Homo sapiens: one gene and its partners. The protein of the gene in region 1 purifies or fractionates together with the protein of each later gene. This does not show direct contact. Each region holds a gene or a part of one and is shown on either strand. Other genes may lie near its edges.

Region 1 (7,028 bases):
TCTTAGAAACTTGGAACCAAACTAAAGGATCACATCTTAAAGCTCTTCTGTCTCTGATTCTTCCTTACCTTAGACTCAGGTAAAGCATTGTTAGTAAGGTCATAGGACAGTGGTTTCTTAACTTTTATATAACATGAATTACCAAAATTCCACAGACAGTCCATTTTCTTCAAGCCCTAGATCAATCCAGATCTCCAGAGGATAAGAGGCCTGCATATTTTTTAGAGTTCTACAAGTGATTCTTTCTTCACAGTAGTGCCTGTTAAAGAGAAAAATTACTACACTACACTTTTCTTTTTTGTAATTTCATAGTAGATTCATTAAAATCTTGTCATGGAAAAGACACTAGGATTTGCAAATTACTATTCCAGACCAGCTTTTGAAAACCCTGAAAATGGAAAATTCAGGAGATTCCCCCCTTAAAAATGAAGAAATCAAGTAAGTCTAAGCAAAATATCTCCTACTAACTTAAGGATCTTTAAGCAGCAACATCTATCATGTTACGACTTCTAAAAGTTAGAAACTGCCATTTAATCAGCACTATAACCTCATGAGGTGAGTATTCCTGTTTTACAGGTGAGGAGACAAATTTAGGTAGGTTAAATCATTTTGCCAAGGTCACCTAGCCATAAAGTATTGCAGCTGAGATTTGAACCCAAGTCTGTCTGATTCCAAAGCCTGTAGTCATGTTACCACTCTTGTAACCATTATGTTATACTGTCTTAGCTCTTTTTTATAGAGTGGAATCTGACTTGTAATTCTTCATCTAGTATTGCGTGGCCCACACCACTTGAGTACATTTCAATAAAGTTTTATTGAGCGCCTGTGATGCTGCTGCAAGGCATAGTTTATATATATTGCTAATGTGTCCTTATATTTTTCTTTATAGTTTGTATGTAGTAAGTGGATTTTGGGTATATACAAAATGCTTGTTTGCCAAGTGTAAAAATATGACATAGCTAATACAAGAAAATGTAGTCAAAGAGTTTATGTTCTTTTTTTTTTTTTTTGAGATGGAGTCTCGCTCTACTGTCGCCCAGGCTGGAGTGCAGTGGCACCATCTTGGCTCACTGCAAGCTCTGCCTCCCAGGTTCACGGCATTCTCCTGCCTCAGCCTCCCCAGTAGCTGGGACTACAGGTGCCTGCCACCACGCCCAGCTAATTTTTTTGTATTTTTAGTAGAAATGGGGTTTCACCGTGTTAGCCAGGATGGTCTTGATCTCCTGACCTCGTGATCTGCACACCTTGGCCTCCCAAAGTGCTGGGATTACAGGCGTGAACCACCGCGCCCGGCCGACAGTGATTTTTCATAAAGGTGTTCCCTTTGTTCTGGGATTTTTAGCCTTCATACATTTTTACTGTTAGGCATTTCCTTTTTCAGATGATGGTGATAATAGTTAAAAAAATTTTATTGATAGTATTAAGGGAGTCCACTACCTTGTGTCAGATTCCCTGTTTCTTTTTGAAGCCCTTGAAATGAAGTTTAGGGACCACTGATCTAGAATTCTCTTTATGCTCCTCCACTACCCATTAACCCCACTCTGTAGTCTGCCTTTTCGCTTTCTTCTCTCCTCCCTTCTAAACACTTCGTAGAACACTATGTTTTCTGTTCATGATTGACCTTCAAATTGCCAAATCCTTTGGCCTTATAAACCGTATGTACTTAACCAACACTCTGTTGTTAACAAATCCTTCAAAACTGTTTTCTTTTGCTTCCGCTCTGTTTTTCCTGTCATCCACTTATCACTTTTCTTCATATGTTTTCTTTCTTTTGTTCCCAGTTGTTATTATGTGGGGTTCTGGTTCTATTTTATGTTCTCACTGTATATTCAGAATCAGATTTTTAGCTACCATGTACCATCTTAATAATACCTAGCATTTATTTACTCTTTCCTAATTGTTATTTCAGTGCTTCAGTATTTCAGTATTCATTTAATTCATTCAGTATTCATTTAATTCTCAAAACAACTCAGTGAGGTTGATACAGGTATAATTGGTGTCTTTTTTTTATTTTTTCTGACACTGGCATATCGAGGCCCAAAGGTTAAGTAATCTATGCAACTAGGAGGCAGTAGAACTGGGATTTAAACTTAGACTGCCTGTAGAGGCCATGTTCTTAACCACTACTAGATTTTTGGCGTCCAGATGTCCCTTGTATTTCTAACTTCCGTTTAGTTTTTCTACCTCAAATTCAATACATCCATTCAGTTAATCTCAAGTGCCTGCCTCTTTCCCTTGACAAAACACACTTGCTCATTCTTTATTCCTTGCCACATTAAAGTTAACACTATCCTCCCCATCGCTAGTACTATAGAGGTCATTGAACCTTCCCCCTGCGTATGGCCTGTGAGTTTTATTGATTCCAGCATGATTATTTGGTGATATTTGAGTGCGATTTTGTGCTAGATCCTGGGTGTATAATGATGTATGAGACACAGACTTTGTCCTCAGGGAGCTTATACTCTAGAAATAATTTTTTTTTTTTTCAAGAGAGCGTCCTACTCTGTTGCCGAGGCTGGAGTGCAGTGGTGCCAACATGGCTTACTGTAGCCTCAGGCTCCCGAGCTCAACTGATCCTCCTGCTGCAGCCTCCCGAGTAGGTGGGACTACAGACATGGACTATCACACCAAGCTGTTTTTATTTTTAGTTCAGGTGGGTTCTCAGTTTGTTGCCCAGGCTGGTCTTGAACTCCTGGGCTCAAATGATTCTCCCACCTCATCCTCCCAAAGTCCAAGTATTGGGATTACAGGCATGAGCCATCATGCCTGGCCAATAAAATGTTACAACAAATTAGCAGAATGCTGAGAGAATAAATGGTGATAGGAAACCTGTATATGTAATGGAGTTTCAGATAATACCTAATATTTATTGAGCACTTTCTTTTTTTTTTTTTAGAGACAGTTTTCGCTCTGTCACTCAGGCTGGAGTACAGTGGTGCTATCTCAACTCACTGCAACCTCCACTTCCTGGGTTCAGGCAGTTCTCATGCCTCAGTCTTCTGAGTAGCTGGAATTACAAGCACCCACCAACACGCCCAGCTAATTTTTGTATTTTTTGTAGAGATGGAGTTTCACCATGTTGGCCAGGCTGGTCTTGAACTCCTGACCTCAAGTAATCCGCCTGCCTTGGCCTCCCAAAGTGCTAGGATTACAGGCATGAGCCACTGCGCCTGACCTATTGAACACTTTCTATATGGTTGACATTATTTTTGGTTCTTCAGTACATTTAATTCTCATAAAGTTCCTAAATGTATACTTCTAGATCTGAAGTATCGGGAATACCTAATTGTACAAAGAACATGCCAGTTGGAAGCTACAGCATTTAGCAGAAGTTCTAAAGTAGGAAAGAGCTTCATTTAAACTGTGAACTGGCCAGGTGTGGTGTCTCACGCTTGTAATCCCAGCGCTTTGGGAGGTTGAAATGGGAGGATCACTTGAGCCCAGGAGTTGGAGACCAGCCTGGGCAACAGTGAGACCCTGTATCTAAAAAAGAAAAAAAAAAAAAAGAAAATGAGTGAACTGGACTATAATGATTCAAAAGGCTAAGTAATATAGGTAACATCAGTATCCTAAAGTATATTCTAATTCACTGATGCTTGATTTTTTGGGGGATTGTATAGTCCCCTTTGCATATATTATGAATGCTGTGGAGCCTCTTCTAGTTTTTTTTCAAAAAAGGTAAGAAAATTTTGCTTAGAATGCCCATGAAGCCTGACTGCTGATCTAAGGAAGTAACTGATTCAATCTGTGCTTTTTGTTTCTGTACTAATACTGCCTTAGTTCAGAGTACTCCTCCTGCCAGAATTCTTTGAGATAATCTCCTGACAGGTTTGTTTCATCCATTGCCCCTCTTAACAGTTTATCCTTTTTATCATAAAGACAATTGTATTATATATAACCCTCCTTTAATTTTTTTATGAAAAGTTTCAAACATGTAAGAAAATAATATAGTATTGTGACCTCCCACAAACGTGTCACTCATCTTAAACAGCAACGACTCATGATCAGTCTTGTTTTACCTGTACTTCTATCCATTCATTGTCCATTCCAAATTATTATTTTCTATTATTTTATTTATTTTTAAGAGACAGGGTCTCACTATGTTGCACAGGCTGGAATGCAGTGGTGCGATCGTAGCTCACTGCAGCCTCAAAACTCTTGGGTTCAAATAGTCCTCCCACTTCAGCCTCCCAAATAGCTTGGACTATAGGCACGTGCTACCACGCCTGGCTAATTTTTTTTTTAGTAGAGACAGGGTCTTTCTATGTTGTCTAGGCTGGTCTTGAGATCATGGCCTCAAGTAGTCCTCCTACCTTGGCATCTCAGGAGTGCTGGGATTAAAGGCATGAGCCACTATGCCTGGCATGCCTCAGCCTCCAGAGTAGCTGGGATTATAGGTGTGCCACCATGCCCGACTAATTTTTTGAATTTTAGTAGGGATGGGGTTTCACCATATTGGCCAGTCTGGTCTCAAACTCCCGACCTCAGGTGATCTGCCCACCCTGGCCTCCCAAAATGCTGGGATTACAGGTGTGAGCCACTATGCCCTGCCTAAATTTTCTTTTATTCTATTAGTGCTTGAAGTTACTGAGTTCTGAAGTTGTTGAGCTTCTCTCTGCTTTGCTATTGATTTGAGCAAGTTCGGAGCACCATGGCCCTCATCTTCGCATTTTACGCTTTTTTTGCAAGTTTATCAACAAGCTCAATTAAACCACCAACTGTTTTCTGAAACTGGCCAGTTTTGTCCGCAAAGTTCTTGCACTCTTCTTTGAGCTCTGTGGTCTGCTGGGTAACCTCTGAGTCCAACACCCACAGCTTGTTCAACTCATCAAAGTGCAGTCCCTCTTCAGCCAGGATGTCCTTTACCATAGTTGTTTCGCATCCAAGTTCCCTAGAGAAGCTCTGCTCTGAAGGAGTGACGGTGACAGTCAGGAGGAGGTGTGTCATAGGAACAAGGGTCGAGAAAGAATAAAGTTCGCTTGCTTGTCACAGGTATTGTTCATTCAACACACATTTCTTTGAGTGCCCACTACATGCCAACACTGCTAGATGCTGGGGGTACAGAGATGAATGCAACATGGTGCCCACCCTGCTGGCCCCGTGGCAGCAGCTTACTATGGCCCAGGCTGATGTAGACTGGCAGCTTCTCCCCATCACTGGTAGCTGGTATGCAGGCAGCCTGCCTCGGCTGTTGCCATGACTACAGAGACTCTTTACCCATGACCTGAAATATATTTTTATTAAGGTTTTTTTTTTTTAACAAAATGGTTTTAAATTTATTTAAATTAATTTCCTTTTTTTTTTTTTTTAAATTGAGGCAGGGTTTCATTTTGTTGCCCAGGCTGGAGTGCAGTGGGCGCAATCCCGGCTCACTGTAACCTCCGCCTCCCAGGTTCAAGCAATTCTCCTGCCTCAGCCCCTTGAGTAGCTGGGATTACAGGCATGCACCACCATGCCCAGCTAATTATTTTGTATTTTTAGTAGATACGGGGTTTCACCATGTTGGCCAGGCTGGTCTTGAACTCCTGACCTCAAGTGATCACCCGCCTTGGCCTCCCAAAGTGCTGGGATTTCAGGTGTGAGCCACCGTGCGCAGCCTAAATAACTGTGTATGCTCGCTTTTGTGTGTATACACTCACTGCCCCTCATAAGACAATTTAGGTTCACAGCAAAATTTAGCAGAAAGTACAAGTAGTCTCCTACCCCAAAGTTTTGCCTTTTCCAGAATACATTCATATACCTTCCCATGGTATCCTTGGGGGAAATTTGTTCCAGGGGTTCTCCTCCAGGATACAAAATCCTCAGATGCTCAAGTCCCTCAATACAATGAGTTTGTAACTTATGCACATCTTCCTGTATATTTTAAATCTCTAGATTACTTTTTTTTTTTTTTTGAGACGGAGTCTCGCTGCGTCGCCCAGGGTGGAGTGCAGTGGCGCGATCTCGGCTCACTGCAAGCTCTGCCTCCTGGGTTCACGCCATTCTCCTGCCTCAGCCTCCCTAGTAGGTGGGACTACAGGCACCCGCCACCACGCCCGGCTAATTTTTTGTATTTTTAGTAGAGACGGGGTTTCACCTTGTTAGCCAGGATGGTCTCGATCTCCTGACCTTGTGATTTGCCTGCCTTGGCCTCCCAAAGTGCTGGGATTACAGGCGTGAGCCACTGCGCCCGGCCTAGATTACTTATATAATCTAAATGCTATGTAAATAGTTGTTACACTTTTTAAAACTTTTTATTTGAGACAGGGTCTCAGTCTGTCACCCAGGCTGGAGTGCAGTAAAACAATCACTGCTCACTGCAGCCTTGATCTCTGGGTTCAGGTGATCCTCCCACCTCAGCCTCCTGAGTAGCTAGGACTACAGGCACCCGCCACCACACCTGGCTAATTTTTGTATTTTTTCTAGAGACAGAGTTTTGCTAAGTTGCTGAGGCTGGTTTTGAGCTTCTGGGCTCAAGCTATCTGCCATCCTTGGCCTCCCAAAGTGCTAGGATTACAGGTGTCAGCTACTGCACCTGGCTAGTTGCTATAATTTTTAAAAATTATTTTTTGGCTGGGCGCAGTGGCTCATGACTGTAATCCCAGCACTTTGGGAGGCCAAAGCGGGTGGATCACAAGGTCAGGAGTTTGAGACCAGCCTGGCCAATATGGTGAAACGCCGTTTCTACTAAAAATATAAAAGTTAGCCAGGTGTGCTGGCACGTGCCTGTAATCCCAGCTACTTGGGAAGCTGAGGGCAGGAGAATCGCTTTAACCCGGGAGGCGGAGGTTGTAGTGAGTCGAGATCGCGCCACTGCACTCTAGCCTGGGCGACAGAGCGAGACTCTGTCTCAAAATATATATATATATATTTTTATTATTTTTCTGGAATATTTTTGCCTTGCCATTGTTTGAATCTGTGAATGGGGAACCCTTGGATACAGAGGGTTGCCTTAGTTTGAATCGTATAATATGTAGCCTTTTCACTTAGTAGCAGTGTATTTAAGGCTTCTCCTTGTCTTTTCTATGGGTTGATTATTTCTTTTTAGT
Region 2 (7,028 bases), on another chromosome or scaffold:
ACTGTTGTCACTGTGTTTCTGAAATGCTAAAAAAAATTATGCTTTGAGCTACCTGCTGCTTATAATTCCTTTCCCTGAATAGGTAGGTTTTTATAGTTAACAAATTTTAAATGTAGTTGATTTTGATAGTAGTATTTCATTATGCAATCTGGAGAGGAGAGAGTGTTTTTCATAAAGTGGATATTAATTACAACTTTAAAAAGCCAATCAGTAAACATTCATTGATCTTGTAATTAACTGTGACACCTAATTAAAATGGTTGCTAGGCTGTTATGTCTGGAAAATATTTGAAATTTTTTTATTCTTTAAAATCTGTCTTCATATACATTCCCATTTCTTTTCTATGGCTGGCTTGAAAATTTTAAAAAATATCTTGGATGTTCCATGTGTTGGGTAGGGTCAGAGAACTTACTTTTTTTCGTTTTCCACCTGATGAGATTGAGATTATTTCTATACAGGTAAAAAGCAAACAGGACCCTGGGAATCCAGTGTGGCTTAGGAATAGGACACTAGACTGGGGATCAGAAATTCTATTTTTGGTACTAGTTTGGCTCTTTCCTTGCTTTGTGGTGCTGTCATTCAGCTTTGTTGGTTTGTTTGTTTGTTTGTGATGGAATCTTGCTCTGTCGCCCAGGCTGGAGTGCAATGGTGCGATCTCGGCTCACTGCATCCTCCACCTTCCGGGCTCAAGCAGTTCTCCTGCCTCAGCCTCCAGAGTAGCTGGGATTACAGGCGTGCGCCACCACACCCAGCTAGTTTTTGCATTTTTAGTACAGACAGGGTTTCACCATGTTGGTCAGGCTGGTCTCGATCTCCTGACCTCGTGATCCACCCGCCTTGGCCTCCCAAAGTGCTGGGATTACAGGCGTGAGCCACTCAGCTTTTTAGATTTGGAATTCCTGGGTCTATTTTCTCATTGGTAAAGTGGGAATAACACTTGTCCTCTTGCCCAAATGACAGTATAAGGTAGTTAGTTATTGCTCAGATTCAGAAAGCTACCAACAGTTTGAATTAATTAAAATTATTACGTAACAGTTTGATTTTCCTCTAGGGTACTCTAGAGATCCATTTGGATAGAATTAGGTTAGAGAGAAGGCAAATAGGTGAAGCAATTTTAAAGAAGAAAACAGTGACTTATACATATTAGATAGGGAGAGTTTATTTTACAGCTGTTACATTTGAGGCAATGTGGTATTGATGCAGAAATAGATAGTCATTTTAAGAGGACAGGTTTCATGATGGTTCTAATTGCATTTCTCTAATGGCTAATGATGTTGAACATCTTTTCATGTTTCTTATTTGTCCATATCTTTTTGGTTCACTAGTAAAGTCTTTTATTCATTTTTATTTGGGTTATTTTCTTATTGTTTTGAGAGACTTTTTTGTATTCTAGATACAAGTCCTTAGTTGGATAAGTGATTTGAAATATTTTCTCCCAGCCTGTAGCTTGTCTTTTCAAACTCTCTAAACAGTGTCTTTCCCAGAGCAAAAGTTTGTGATTTTGATGAGGTCCAGTTTATCAAATTTTTCTTTTATGAATCATGCTTTTAGTATCATGTTTACAAAAACCTTTGCCTAACCCCAGGTCACAAAGATTTTCTCTTATTTTTTTCCTGAAAGTGTTATTGTTTTTAATTTTATATTTAGACTTATGGTCCATTTTGAGTTAATTTTTGTATTAAGTGTAGGAATTATGTTGGGATTAAACTTTTGGCATATAGATGTCCAGTTCTTCCAACACCATTTGTTGAAAAAAGCCAACCTTTCTCCTTTGACTTGCCTTTGCACCTTTTTCAAAAATCCATTGGCCATTTTTGTATGGCCCTGTCTCTAAACCTTTTCTGTTTCTATCAGCTCTATGCCACCTTGATTGAAGTAGCTTTATAGTAAGTCTTAAACTTTGGTAGTGTGAAAAAAACTGAAAACAAATAGTTTCTTCAACTTTTTTTGTTTTCATAGTTGTTTTGTTGTTATCTAGTTTCTTTGCATTTCCAAGCTAATTTTAGAATTAGCTTGTCAATTTCTCTAAAAAAATCTTGCTGGGACTTTGACTGGAAATTGCACTGTTTGTACAACAGTTACAGAAAACTTGACATTTCGGCTGGGTGCAGTGGCTCACACCTGTAATCCCAGCACTTTGGGAAGTCAAGGCAGGAGGATCACTTGAGGTCAGGAGTTCGAGTCCATCCTGGCCAACATGACGAAACCCCATCTCTACTAAAAATACAAAAATTAGCTGGGCGTGGTGGCGCACGCTTGTAATCTCAGCTACTCTGGAGGCTGAGGCAAGAGAATCGCTTGAACCCAGGAGGCGGAGGTTCCAGTGAGCCAAGATCGTACCGCTGCACTCCAGCAGCCTGGGCGACAGACTAAGACTCTGTCTCAAAAAAAAGAAAAAGAAAACTTCCCTACTATGTTGAGTCTTCCAGTCCATGAACACAGTATGTTTCTCCATTCTTTTAGATCCTCTTTAGTTTCTTTCATTAGCATTTTGTAGTTATCAGCAAACAAATTTTGCATATGTTTTAATTTGTGCCCAGGAATCTCAGGGTTTGTTTTTTGTGTTTTTTTGTTGTTGTTGTTTTGTTTTGTTTTGCTATTGTAAATGTGTGTTTTAAAAAAAAAAGTTTTGGTTTCCATTTGTTTGTTGCCAGTATATAGAAAAACAGTTGATTCTTATGCTTGTATCCTGTGACATTGCTAAAATCATGTAGTAGTTTTAGGAGTTCTTTTTTGGATTCTTTGGGGTTTTCTACATAGACAACAATGTTGGTTGTGAAAAGGGGCCGTTTTATTTCTTCTTTTCCAGCCTGTATGGTTTTTCCCCCCTTCCTAGCCTTATTACACCAATGTATTGAACAGGACTGGTGACTGCAGACATCCTTCCCTTGTTCCTAATTTTATTGGGAAAGCAGTCAGTCATTCATTATGAAGTATGACGTTTGCTGTAAGTTTTCTGAAAATGCCCTTTCTCAGTTTAAAAAAATCCTCTTCTAGCTTGCAGAAAATTTTTATTATGAAAGTATGCGGAATTTTTTAATAATATGCCAGTTGGTATGCATAAGTGATTTTCTTCTTCAGTGGATTACATTGGAGACAGCCTTGAATCTGGGATAAACTCCCATTGGTCAGGGTATATTACTCTCATTATGAGTTGCTGAATTTGAGTTACTAATATTTCCTTAAGGATTTTTTATTTATGTTAATGAAGGATATTAGTCTGTGGTTTTCTTGTATTCTCTTTGGTTTTGGTATCAGTAATACTGACATCAGTTTATGAGATTAAAATTACAAGTATTTCCTTTTCTATTATTTTTTTAAGAGATTGTATAATAATTGGTGTTATTTCTTCTTTAAATGTGTGATAGAATTTGTCCTTGAAGCCATCCAGGTCTGGAGATTTTTTGCAGAAGATTTCTAATTACAAATTCAGTTTCTTAAAATAATTATAATAGGATTATTCATAGTTGTCTGTTTCATCTTGTGTGACTTTATGTAGTTTGTGTTTTTTGAGGAATTAGTCCATTTCATTTAAATTATCCAATTCATGTGTATGGAATTTATTATTGTGTTCACTTATCCTTTTAAGGAATTAGAGGTCTGTAGTGATGTCTCATCTTTCCTGATATCCCTTCTTTCCATTAGTAATTTATGTCTGCTGACTTTTTTTCTTGGTTAATTTTTCAGGAGGTTTTTCAATTTTTATTTTTTTCCAAGGACTGGCTTTTTATTTCATTAGGTTTTCTCTGTTGCTTTCTTGTTCTCAATTTCGTTGATTTCTACTCTTTATTATTTCTTTCTATTTACTTTAGGTTTATTTTGCTCTTCTTCTCCAGGTTCCTAAAGGTTGAGGCTTACATAATTGATTTGAGATCTTTCTAATTTTCTAATATAAACATTTAATGCTATAAATTTGCTTCAAAGTAGAGTTTTACATACATGCCAAAATTTTTGATATTTTGTATTTTCATGTTTATTTAGATCAAAGTATCTTCTAATTTCCAGAAACTTCCTTTTTGACTTATTATATAGAAGTACATTGTTTAACTTCCAGATGTTTGGAGATTTTTCTTGTTATCTCTTAATTACTTACTTTAGTTTAATTTCATTATAATCAGAGAGCATAATTTGTACTGGCTAGGCGTGGTGGCTCACGCCTGTAATACCAGCACTTTGGGAGGCCTAGGCGGGCAGATCACCTGAGGTCAGGCGTTCAGGACCAGCCTGGCCAACGTGGTGAAACCGCATCTCTACTAAAAATACAAAAATTAGCCGGACATGGTGGCATGAGCCTGTAATCCCAGCCACTCGGGAGGCTGAGGCAGGAGAACCGCTTGAACCCAGGAGGCAGAGGTTGCAGTGAGCCGAGAATGTGCCATCGCACTCCAGCCTGGGCAACAAGAGTGAAACTCCGTCTCAAAAAAAAAAAAAAAAAAGCATAATTTGTATGATTACAGTTCTCTTAAATTTGTTAAGGTTTGTTTTGTGATCCAGGATGTGATCTATCCTCATGAATATCTTGAGCACTTAAAAAGAATGTGTACTCTGCTGTTGTTGGTTGTAGCATTTCATAAATATCAATTCAAGCCAGTTAGTGGATGCTGTTCATTTTGCCTATATTGCTGATTTTTGTGTACAAAGTCTGCCAGTTACTGAGAAAGGAATGTTTAATTTTTCAGCAGTAAGGGTGGATATGCCTATATATCCCTTCAGTTGTTTGAGTTAGTGCATTTGTATTTTGAAGCTCTTTAATTATAGTTGTATATACATTTAGGATGCTTATGTCTTCTTGGTGATTGGGCATTTTATCATCATGTAATGTTCCTCTGTCCCTGGTAATTTTCTTTTCTCTGAAGTTTACTTTGTCTGATATTTATTTATTTTTTGAGGCAAGTCTCACTTTGTTGCCCAGGCTAAAGTTTAGTGGCGTGATTGTGGCTCACTGCAGCCTCAACCTCCTGGGCTTAGGTGATCCTCCTACCTCCACCTCCCAGCTAGCTGCGACTGCAGGTGTGTACCACCACGCCCGGTTAATTTTTTGTATTTTTAGTAGAGGTGGGGTTTGGCCATGTTTCCCAGGCTGTTCTGGAACCCCTGGCTTCATGATCTGCCAGCCTTGGCCTCCCAAAGTGCTGGGATTATATGGGCGTGGGCCACTGCGCCTGACCTTGTCTGATATTATATAGCCACTCTAGCTCTTTTCTTAAATATAACACCTTTATTGAGATATGTAATTCACATACCATACTATTCACCTATTTAAAGTGTACACTTTTAGGGTTTTCAGTATATTCAGAGTTGTGTAACCATCAACAAAATTGATTTTAGAACATTTTTCCCGCGCAAAAAGAAACCGTATGTTCATTAACAGTCACTTCCCATTCCTCCTTCCTTTTCCTAATCCCTCAGTCCTAGACATCCACTAATCTACTTTCAGCCTCTGTGGATTTGCCTCTTTTGGACACTATATAAATGGCGTGATACATTGTCTTTGTGACTGACTTCTTTCACTGAGCATAATTTTTTCAGTTTTCATCCATGTTGTAGCCTGTTTCAGGGCATCATTCCCCCCTACTTTTTTTTTTTTGCCAGATATTCCACTGTATGAACACATCATATTTACTCATTTATCAGTTGAATAATATTGCTGTGAACATTCATGTACAGTTTTTTGCATTGACATACTTTCATTTTCCTGGTATGTACCTAGGAGTGGAATTGTTGGATCACATGTTTAACCTTTTGAAGAACTGTCAGACTTTTCCAAAGTGGCTATACCATTTCACATTCTTTATATCCTAGCCAACACTTACTATCTTTTCTATTATAGCCATCCTAGTAGGTATATCTCATTGTGGTTTTGAATTGCATTTCAGTGATGGCTAGTTATGTTGAGCATGTTTTCATGTTCTTATTAGCCCTCTGGTTTTCTTTTGACTAATATTTGTACAGTATATCCTCTTTTCCATCCTTTTAACTTTTTTTTTGGAGGCAGGGTCACACTTTGTCACCCAGGCAGGAGTGCAGTGGCACAGCCAGGGTTGACTGCGCCCTCACCGTTCCGAGTAGCTGGGACTACAGGCATGTGCCACCACACCCAGCTAATTTTTAAATTTTTTGTAGAGACAGGGTTTTGCCATGTTGCCCAGGCTGGTCTTGAATTCCTGGGCTCAAGCAATCCTCCGATTTTGGCCTCTTAAGGTGCTGGGATTACAGGTGTGAGCCACTATGCCCGGCCTGTCCTTTTACTTTTAACCTACCCATATCATATTTAAAGTGAATTTTATATAAACAATGCATAGTTGGGTCCTCTTTTAAAATTCTGATCATCTGTCTTAATCTTATCTAAATATAAATGTCGAGGACATTTATATTTAGTGAAATTATTAACATGTTTGGATTTAGTTCTGCCATCTTATCATTTGTTTTCTTTTTGTTCCTTTGATATTCCTTTGTTTTGCCTTTTCTCTGTCTTTTGGGTTATTGAACACTTTTTAATTCATTTCAATTAATCTATTGTAGTTTTGACTATTATCTCTGTGCAGTTATTTTAGGGATTTATTAGGAATTACAATATATGTAAATTTTTAAGTCTACTTAAAATTGATATTTTTACAACTTCAAGTGAAATGTAGAAATCTGATCAATGTATAGGCCTTTTTAGCCTCCTCCCTTTTTCTTGTAGTTATATATTTGCCTGCATAAATTAAAAATCTCATTAGATAAATGTTATAATTCTTGTTTTTAAACATTAGACATTTAAAAGAACTAAGAGGAAAATAATTACCCAGATATTTACAATTTCAGTTGGTCTTCCTTTGTTCCTGATGTTCTAAGTTTCCTTCTGATAACACTTTGCTTCTAACTGAAGAGTATTCTTTATAATAAGTCTACTGGAAATAAGTTCTTCTTTCTCTTCAGCTGAGAATGACTTTTATTTCACCTTCATATATGAAACATATTTTTGCTGGATATAGAATTTTGGGTTGATAGGTCTGTTCTTTCAGCATTTTGAAAGTGTTGTTCTA
Region 3 (7,028 bases), on another chromosome or scaffold:
CTCAGCCTCCCAAGTAGCTGGGATTACAGGCATGCGCCACCATACCCAGCTAATTTTGTATTTTTAGAAGAGACGGGGTTTCTCCATGTTGGTCAGGCTGGTCTCGAACGCCTGACCTCAGATGATCAGCCCACCTTGGCCTCCCAAAGTGCTGGGATTACAGGCATGAGCCACTGCGCCCGGCTAACCTGACATTTCTAAACCAGTAAAGATGATAAAGACAAAGGCTTGATGTCAAAAATTATCTGCATTGGGTTATTCCTCCATAACACCCAGGAGAGAGAAACTTGGAGGAAGCAAGTAGGCTCAGTACACACAGAGGTAAAGGGTCAATGTGGAAAAAAAAATCGTATTTTTAAAGAGGGAAGTAAGATTTTTCCCTAAAATTACTATCATTTCAATTTTGAAGTTCTATCATGTTAACATTCTGAAATTTTAAACAAAATTATTTAGTAACGAGATGACAGTACAATCACTATTCAAAAAGACCTCTCTGCCTATAGTTTGGATGTTCGTCCCCCAAGCCTCAATGTTGAAATTTGATCCTCAGTGTTGGAGATGGGGTCTAATGAGAGGTGTTTGGGTTATGGGAGCAGATCCCTCATGAATGGCTTGGTGCTGTCCTCATGGTAATGAGTGAATTCTCACTCTATTAGTCCTATGAAAGCTGGTTTTTAAAAAGAGCCTGGCACCTCTCCCAGACCCTCTCTCACCATGGAACACGTACCAGCTCCACTTTGCTTTCTGCCATCAGTGGAAGCAGCCTGAAGCTTCAGCCTGCAGAACTGTGAGCCAAATAAACCTCTTATCTTTATAAATTACCCAGGCTCAGCTATTCCTTTATAGCAACAAAAATGGACAATGACAATCTCCTTTTAACAAGACCAACTTTGAAAACTATCATAGGTTAACCAACGGAGGTATGCTCTGGTCTTCTCTAACAAACACATATCTTCTAGGCACTCAATCCATAGTTTGAATTAAACCAAGATGGACCTTCACAAACAGTTATAAGATTTTTTTTTTCCTCAGTTATAAGATTCTAAAGGACCAACTAGACATTACCCTATCATTACCCTATGATCTGATCTGTCCTTATCCTAGATGTCTCATAGATAGAGGGAATGGCAGCTAAAGCAGAGTTAACAGCATCCCTGAAAGCTAAAAGGGAGATCATTCCCAGATTCTCTCTGGGCTTGTTCCAGCACAGCACTAAATAGCTGGGCCCTGCCTTTTAGATGGCCTAATGATAAGCAGTTTTAGGTTTTAAAACATCTGAATATCATGGGTTTTGCTGATTCTCATCTACTTCCTGTTATATATTTTAGAAATGTCTATTGTGAAGCACTGACTACATATTCATCCAGAGGAACTATGTCAGCATTTACAGGCTTTCAATTATCTATAGTAATGGAGGTTGGGCTAAATGGAATACAGACACCTTATTTTCACTATAAATTTCAACTGTTACCAAATTTTTACATCAATAACTATTCAGCAATACCTAAAATCTTTTTTTATAGAAATCTTATTTAATATGTAGTACCACCTACATCCTGCTTTCATACTTTCAGCATAATTTAACACATTCAAGGAGACTATGCAAATCAATTCAAAATATCTATCTATACCAGTGGTTTTCAAACTGAATTTTTTTTTTTTTTTTTTTTTTGTGAGACGAAGTCTTGCTCTGTCGCCAGGCTGGAGTGCAGTGGTGCAATCTTGGCTCACTGCAACCTCTGCCTCCTGGGTTCAAGTGATTCTTCTGCCTTAGACTCCCAAGGAGCTGGGACTACAGGCATGTGTCACCACGCCCAGCTAATTTTTGTATTTTTAGTAGAGACGGGGTTTCACCATGTTGGCCAGGATGGTCTCAATCTCTTGACCTCATGATCTGCCCGCCTCGGCCTCCCAAAGTGCTGGGATTACAGGCGTGAGCCACTGCGCCTGGCCCAAACTGTTTTTTGTTTGTTTGTTTGTTTGTTTTTCCTTTGAGATGGAGTATCGCTCTGTCGCCCAGGCTGGAGTGCAGTGACGTGATCTCAGCTCGCTGCAACCTCCGTCTCCTGGGTTCAAGCAATTCTCCTACCTCAGCCTCCTGAGAAGCTGGGATTACAGGCGCCCGCCACCCCACGCCCAGCTAAAGCAATACCTAAAATCTTAAGCTATCTAGTGTGTTAGGGATTATTAGCTTAACATACTTTCAGGCAGAGTAAATACATACCTTTAATTTATCAGATAAATCTTTAATCTCATTAACTGCTCCATTATATTTGTTGGCTAATTCTCTTAATTCTTCCTGAGTCCTTTCATTCATTTCTTTCAGATGGGTACATTCATCTTCAGTATTACTCAGACTTCGCTGCGATTCAAGTTTACAGGCAATTTAATTAGAATAAGTGTATATTTGTTATTTAGAATTCCTTCTAAATGAAATTTATAAAAAGTATAATTCTATGGACTATTCTAAATCAACATCTGCCCTGGACTTTAAATAAAGCTGAGTCAAATAACATAAGAATTTCAATTCACACTAAAACAGAAAACATAACTAAGAATTAACAAAAACAACAAAAAAATAAAAGTGGAGGGAGAGCAGGGGCAGGAAAAGGATGCTGCCTTTATATAATTACATTTTTGAAAGGCCAATGGGTATGACTTTTAGCTGTGAAAATATTTTAAGCCTATCAATCCTTGAAAGCAAGTTTAATAATATCCAGCAATCAATTTAATAAAAAATTAAAAGACACTTAGTAACTTTCTTTATATATCAAATTAATCACACAACAGTGAATCAGGCACTATGGGATGAGGTAGCAATACAAACTATACCTGTAGTAAGGAAAGGTATGTTTACCATTTAGTTTCTGATGAGCATTTTAACTAATTCTAGTAATACATTATTTATGTGGTAATTTTGCAGTGGTTCAAAGAAAAGATCTATATTATGAATTAGAATTTTTTTCCCCAAAGCAATAAAAATTGCATTTTGATTGCTCCTCCAAGACCTAGAAAGGACCTTGGAGATGATTTCACCTTTGAACTTCCTAAATATATGACACAGCTAGTTTTCCTCTCTGCAGAGTGAATTAAAAAAGAACAAGTAGTGTAGACTCTTGGCCTTACACTGACCCCCCTCAAATAGAAGCAAAGCAAAACCAAGTGACAGGAAATCAATTCCCCAGCACATATCATGGTCTGCTGTATGGAGGGTGAATCCTAAGCAGAATGCAAACAATAAGATTCCCTGGTTACGCTTTTATTTCCTCAGCCATTGACTAGGGAGTAAGTACCAAAACTCACATGGAGAATTGCTGTCAATGAAAGCAGCGTAACTGTTCCTTCCCACCTGACAGACAGAAAGTATTTCCTAACTATATAATAATACCCAAGTTTAAAGTATCCTGGAATGCTTGAGATTTTTTTGAACACTCATAATACTATTTAGTATTTTTTTTTTGATTGAAATACCTCAACTTCTGAAAGTTTTCTAACCACTTCAATTTTCTCCTGAAGAACCCGCCTCAGGGACTCTTTGGCTGTTGTCTCATAGTTATGTTTATCCTCTTGTAATGCTATAAGTTCCTTTCGTAAACTATCTTCTGTTTGATTCTACAATAAAAGATATTTATAATTATAGACAAGTTATTTTTTAAAAGCATTTATTGTTTGAAAAAAATTAACACATTATGATATACTTTAAATTATATATTAAGGTACCTCCAAACATAAATGATTCTGGCCCTGTATTAACTAAAGATGTATTTACAAGTTGCATAAGTAAATTATGCCTTCACAAACTTACTAATTTCCACTTCCTATAGAAAAAAAAAGTTATAGGCAATTGAGAATTTCCCTAAAATATACAAAATTAGTTACTTTTATATTTGTCATATTTTCTGCAAGCCACCATATTCACATTTGTAGGCAAAAATAATCAATTACCTTCAAAGGCACCAAGCATTCTGAAACAATGGTTAAAACAAAAGGAATAAGAGTACCATGGGGGAAAAGCAGACTTCATGTCTGGGGCAGGAAAAGTACAAAATGAGCCTGAAACATCTTGTCTGAAATGACAGCATGAAGCTATCACTCTGAAGACATTTACACAGACCAAAGATGGGATAATTTGAGCATCAATAAGAAAAATAGGCTGGCCGTGGCACTTTGGGAGGCCGAGATGGGAGGATTGCGTGAGCCCAGGAGTTCAAGACCAGCCTGGGCAACATAGCAAGACCCTGTCTCTAAAACAAGAAAAACAACTGCACCAGATTTAAATACATCAAATATGTTTAAATCTAAGTGGAGTGAGAAAACACTTCATGGCCAGTCTTTGGTAGATGAAAAACCACCAATTCATTATTCTGAAATCTAATAAATAAGGGGAGAAAATCACTTATCTTGCTTTCCCCGTAGAAAACATACCTCAGGGTTATTTAAATTTTTTTATTCCAATACCTTTAGAGATACAAGTGGTTTTTGGTTACATGGATGAATTATGTAGTGGTGATGTCTGGGGTTTTAGTGCACTCATTACCTGAGTAGTGTATATTGTATTCAATAGGGAGTTTTTCATCCCTCACTCCCCTCTCACTTTCCCAACTTCTGAGTCTCCAATGTCCATTATAGCACTCTTTATGCCTTTACATACCTATAGCTTAGCTTCCACTTATAAATGAGAACATGTGGTATTTGGTTTTTGATGCCAAAGTTACAAAAAACAATGGCCATTGTTTTTCCTTTTTTCGTTTTTTTAGAGACAGGGTCTCTCTTTGTCACCAAGGCTGGAGCGCAGTTCTGCGATCATAACTCACTGTAATCACAAACTCCTGGGCTCAAGCGATCCTTCCACCTAAGCCTCCCGAGTAGCTAGGACTACAGGTTATGTACCACTATGCTAAGCAAATCTTTAATTTTTGGTAGATACTGGGTTTTGCCATGTTGCCCATACTGGTCTCAAACTGCCCCCGCTTTTTTTTTTTTTTTTTTTGAGACAGTCTCGCTCTGTCGCCCAGGCTGGAGTTCAGAGGTGCGATCTTGGCTCACTGCAACCTCCACCCCCACCGGGTTTAAGCAATTCTGTCTCAGCCTCTTGAGTAGCTTGGATTACAGGTACATGCCACCATGTCCAGCTAATTTTTGTACTTTTAGTAGAGACGGGGTTTCGCCATGTTGGCCACGCTGGTTTTGAACTCCTGACCTCAAGCAATCCGCCTGCCTTGGCCTCCCAAAGTGCTAGGATTACAGGCATGAGCCACTGTGTATGGAAGGAAACTTCTCTTTATAGAAGTAACCCAGCTAAATAAGTGAAGGAATAACAGAATTACATCATTATTTTTGTAACTTTTTTGTTGTTGTTGTTGTTGTTGAGACAGAGTTTCACTCTTGTTGCCCAGGCTACATTGCAATGGCACGATCTTGGCTCACTGCAACCTCTGCCTCCTGGGTTCAAGGGATTCTCCTGTCTCAGCCTTCTGAGTAGCTGGGATTACAGGCATGTGCCACCATGCCCGGCTAATTTTGTATTTTTAGTAGTGATGGGATTTCTCCATGTCGGTTGGACTGGTCTTGAACTCTCGAGCTCAGGTGATTCGCCCGCCTCATCCTCCCAAAGTGCTGGGATTATAGGTGTGAGCCACTGCGCCCAGCCTTATTTGTAACCGTAATGAAATAATGGATCTAGCCTGGGATCATCAATGATTGATAAAAATCTCAAAAAGAAAGACAACTAGACATTATGTTGTCCCTTGGTGGAAGAACACAATACCATCCATAAAGTGTTGTTGACAAAAAGAAAAACTGAACCTAAATCACATCAAATCTCTAGATGGAACTACTACTTTATGGAGTGGGAGGGGGAGCTAAAAAATGTTTAAATAACAATGCAGACTGAGGGAAATTCTAGAGGACAAATGACCCAGTTTTTTCAAGAAATATTAACTGCAATAGAAAAAAGACAGACTTGTACATGGGTATTCATTATGTAATTATTTTTATTTACATGGATGTCTGACGTTTCTCAGCACAAAAGATTTAAAAGAATTGTGGAAATGTATGAAGTTTTTAGCATATACTCAAAATGATAGTCAAAGAAATGATGTTACATAAAAAACTATGCATTTCATTTTACACATTTGAGGTTAATACCTACTTTGGAGCATGCCTGTAATTGGTTTCCCATAACTTCTAACCGTGATAAGAGTCTATCTTCATCTATTAAAGCCTATTGAAGAAAAATTAAATGTAAGTAAAACCCGAGTAATTATAAAGTCACATGTATATAAAAAAAGGTTGCTACTGACAACAAAAGATATAAAAGCGTAAAACTGACCAGCATCCACTGTAAAATGCTAAATCTTCAACAACTTGTTCATTAGTTAGGAAATAACTTTGTCTTTGTTTGCTACATTTTAGTTTATTTAACATGTATGGAATATTAAACTATGTTTAAATGTTTCTTAAATATAAAACAACTGGAATACCTGCCAACTGGTATCTGAAGCCTCTTGGGTGATGGCTAGTAGCCGCTGAAGCGTGGCTAACTTCTGTTCCAACATTTGTTCCCGATGTAAGGCCTCCTAGTATTACAAATCACAAAACAGATTCTAATAAGCTCATCATGATTCTTTTGAGGAGTGATCAATTTTCAGCATATTCTAAAATATTTTCATATTACATCCCACTTGATGTATTTTAAAGTAGTGAAACTTGATAGTACTTTGTAAAACATACAGCAGTCCCCGCTTATCTCTGGTTTCCCTTTCCACAGTTTCAGTTATAGTGCAGTACAAGATATTTTGAGAGAGACAGACAGAATGTTGACATTCACATAACTTTTATTCACATAACAGTATACTGTTGTAATTGTTCTATTTTATTATTATTGTTAATTTCTTACTATGCTTAATTTATAAGTCAAACTTTATCATAGGTATGTGTATATATAGGAAAAAACATAGTAGATATAGGGTTTGGTACTATCTGTGATTTCAGGCATCTACTGGGGGTCATGGAACATATTCCCTGCA

The links.
Region 2: the proteins of STRN3 (region 1) and FGFR1OP2 purify together in Homo sapiens (affinity purification with mass spectrometry; 5 studies listed by BioGRID and IntAct, with this or other methods). This does not show direct contact.
Region 3: the proteins of STRN3 (region 1) and SLMAP purify together in Homo sapiens (affinity purification with mass spectrometry; 5 studies listed by BioGRID and IntAct, with this or other methods). This does not show direct contact.

What each region holds. Positions count from the first base shown.
Region 1 is NC_000014.9:31,016,365-31,023,392, reverse strand, and holds part of STRN3 (striatin-3), read left to right. Parts: intron 1-7,028. UniProt on the Homo sapiens protein: Calmodulin-binding scaffolding protein which is the center of the striatin-interacting phosphatase and kinase (STRIPAK) complexes.
Region 2 is NC_000012.12:26,941,444-26,948,471, forward strand, and holds part of FGFR1OP2 (FGFR1 oncogene partner 2), read left to right. Parts: intron 1-7,028. UniProt on the Homo sapiens protein: May be involved in wound healing pathway.
Region 3 is NC_000003.12:57,857,283-57,864,310, reverse strand, and holds part of SLMAP (sarcolemmal membrane-associated protein), read right to left. Parts: intron 6,579-7,028; coding exon 6,483-6,578; intron 6,224-6,482; coding exon 6,152-6,223; intron 3,613-6,151; coding exon 3,472-3,612; intron 2,363-3,471; coding exon 2,225-2,362; intron 1-2,224. UniProt on the Homo sapiens protein: Associates with the striatin-interacting phosphatase and kinase (STRIPAK) core complex, forming the extended (SIKE1:SLMAP)STRIPAK complex.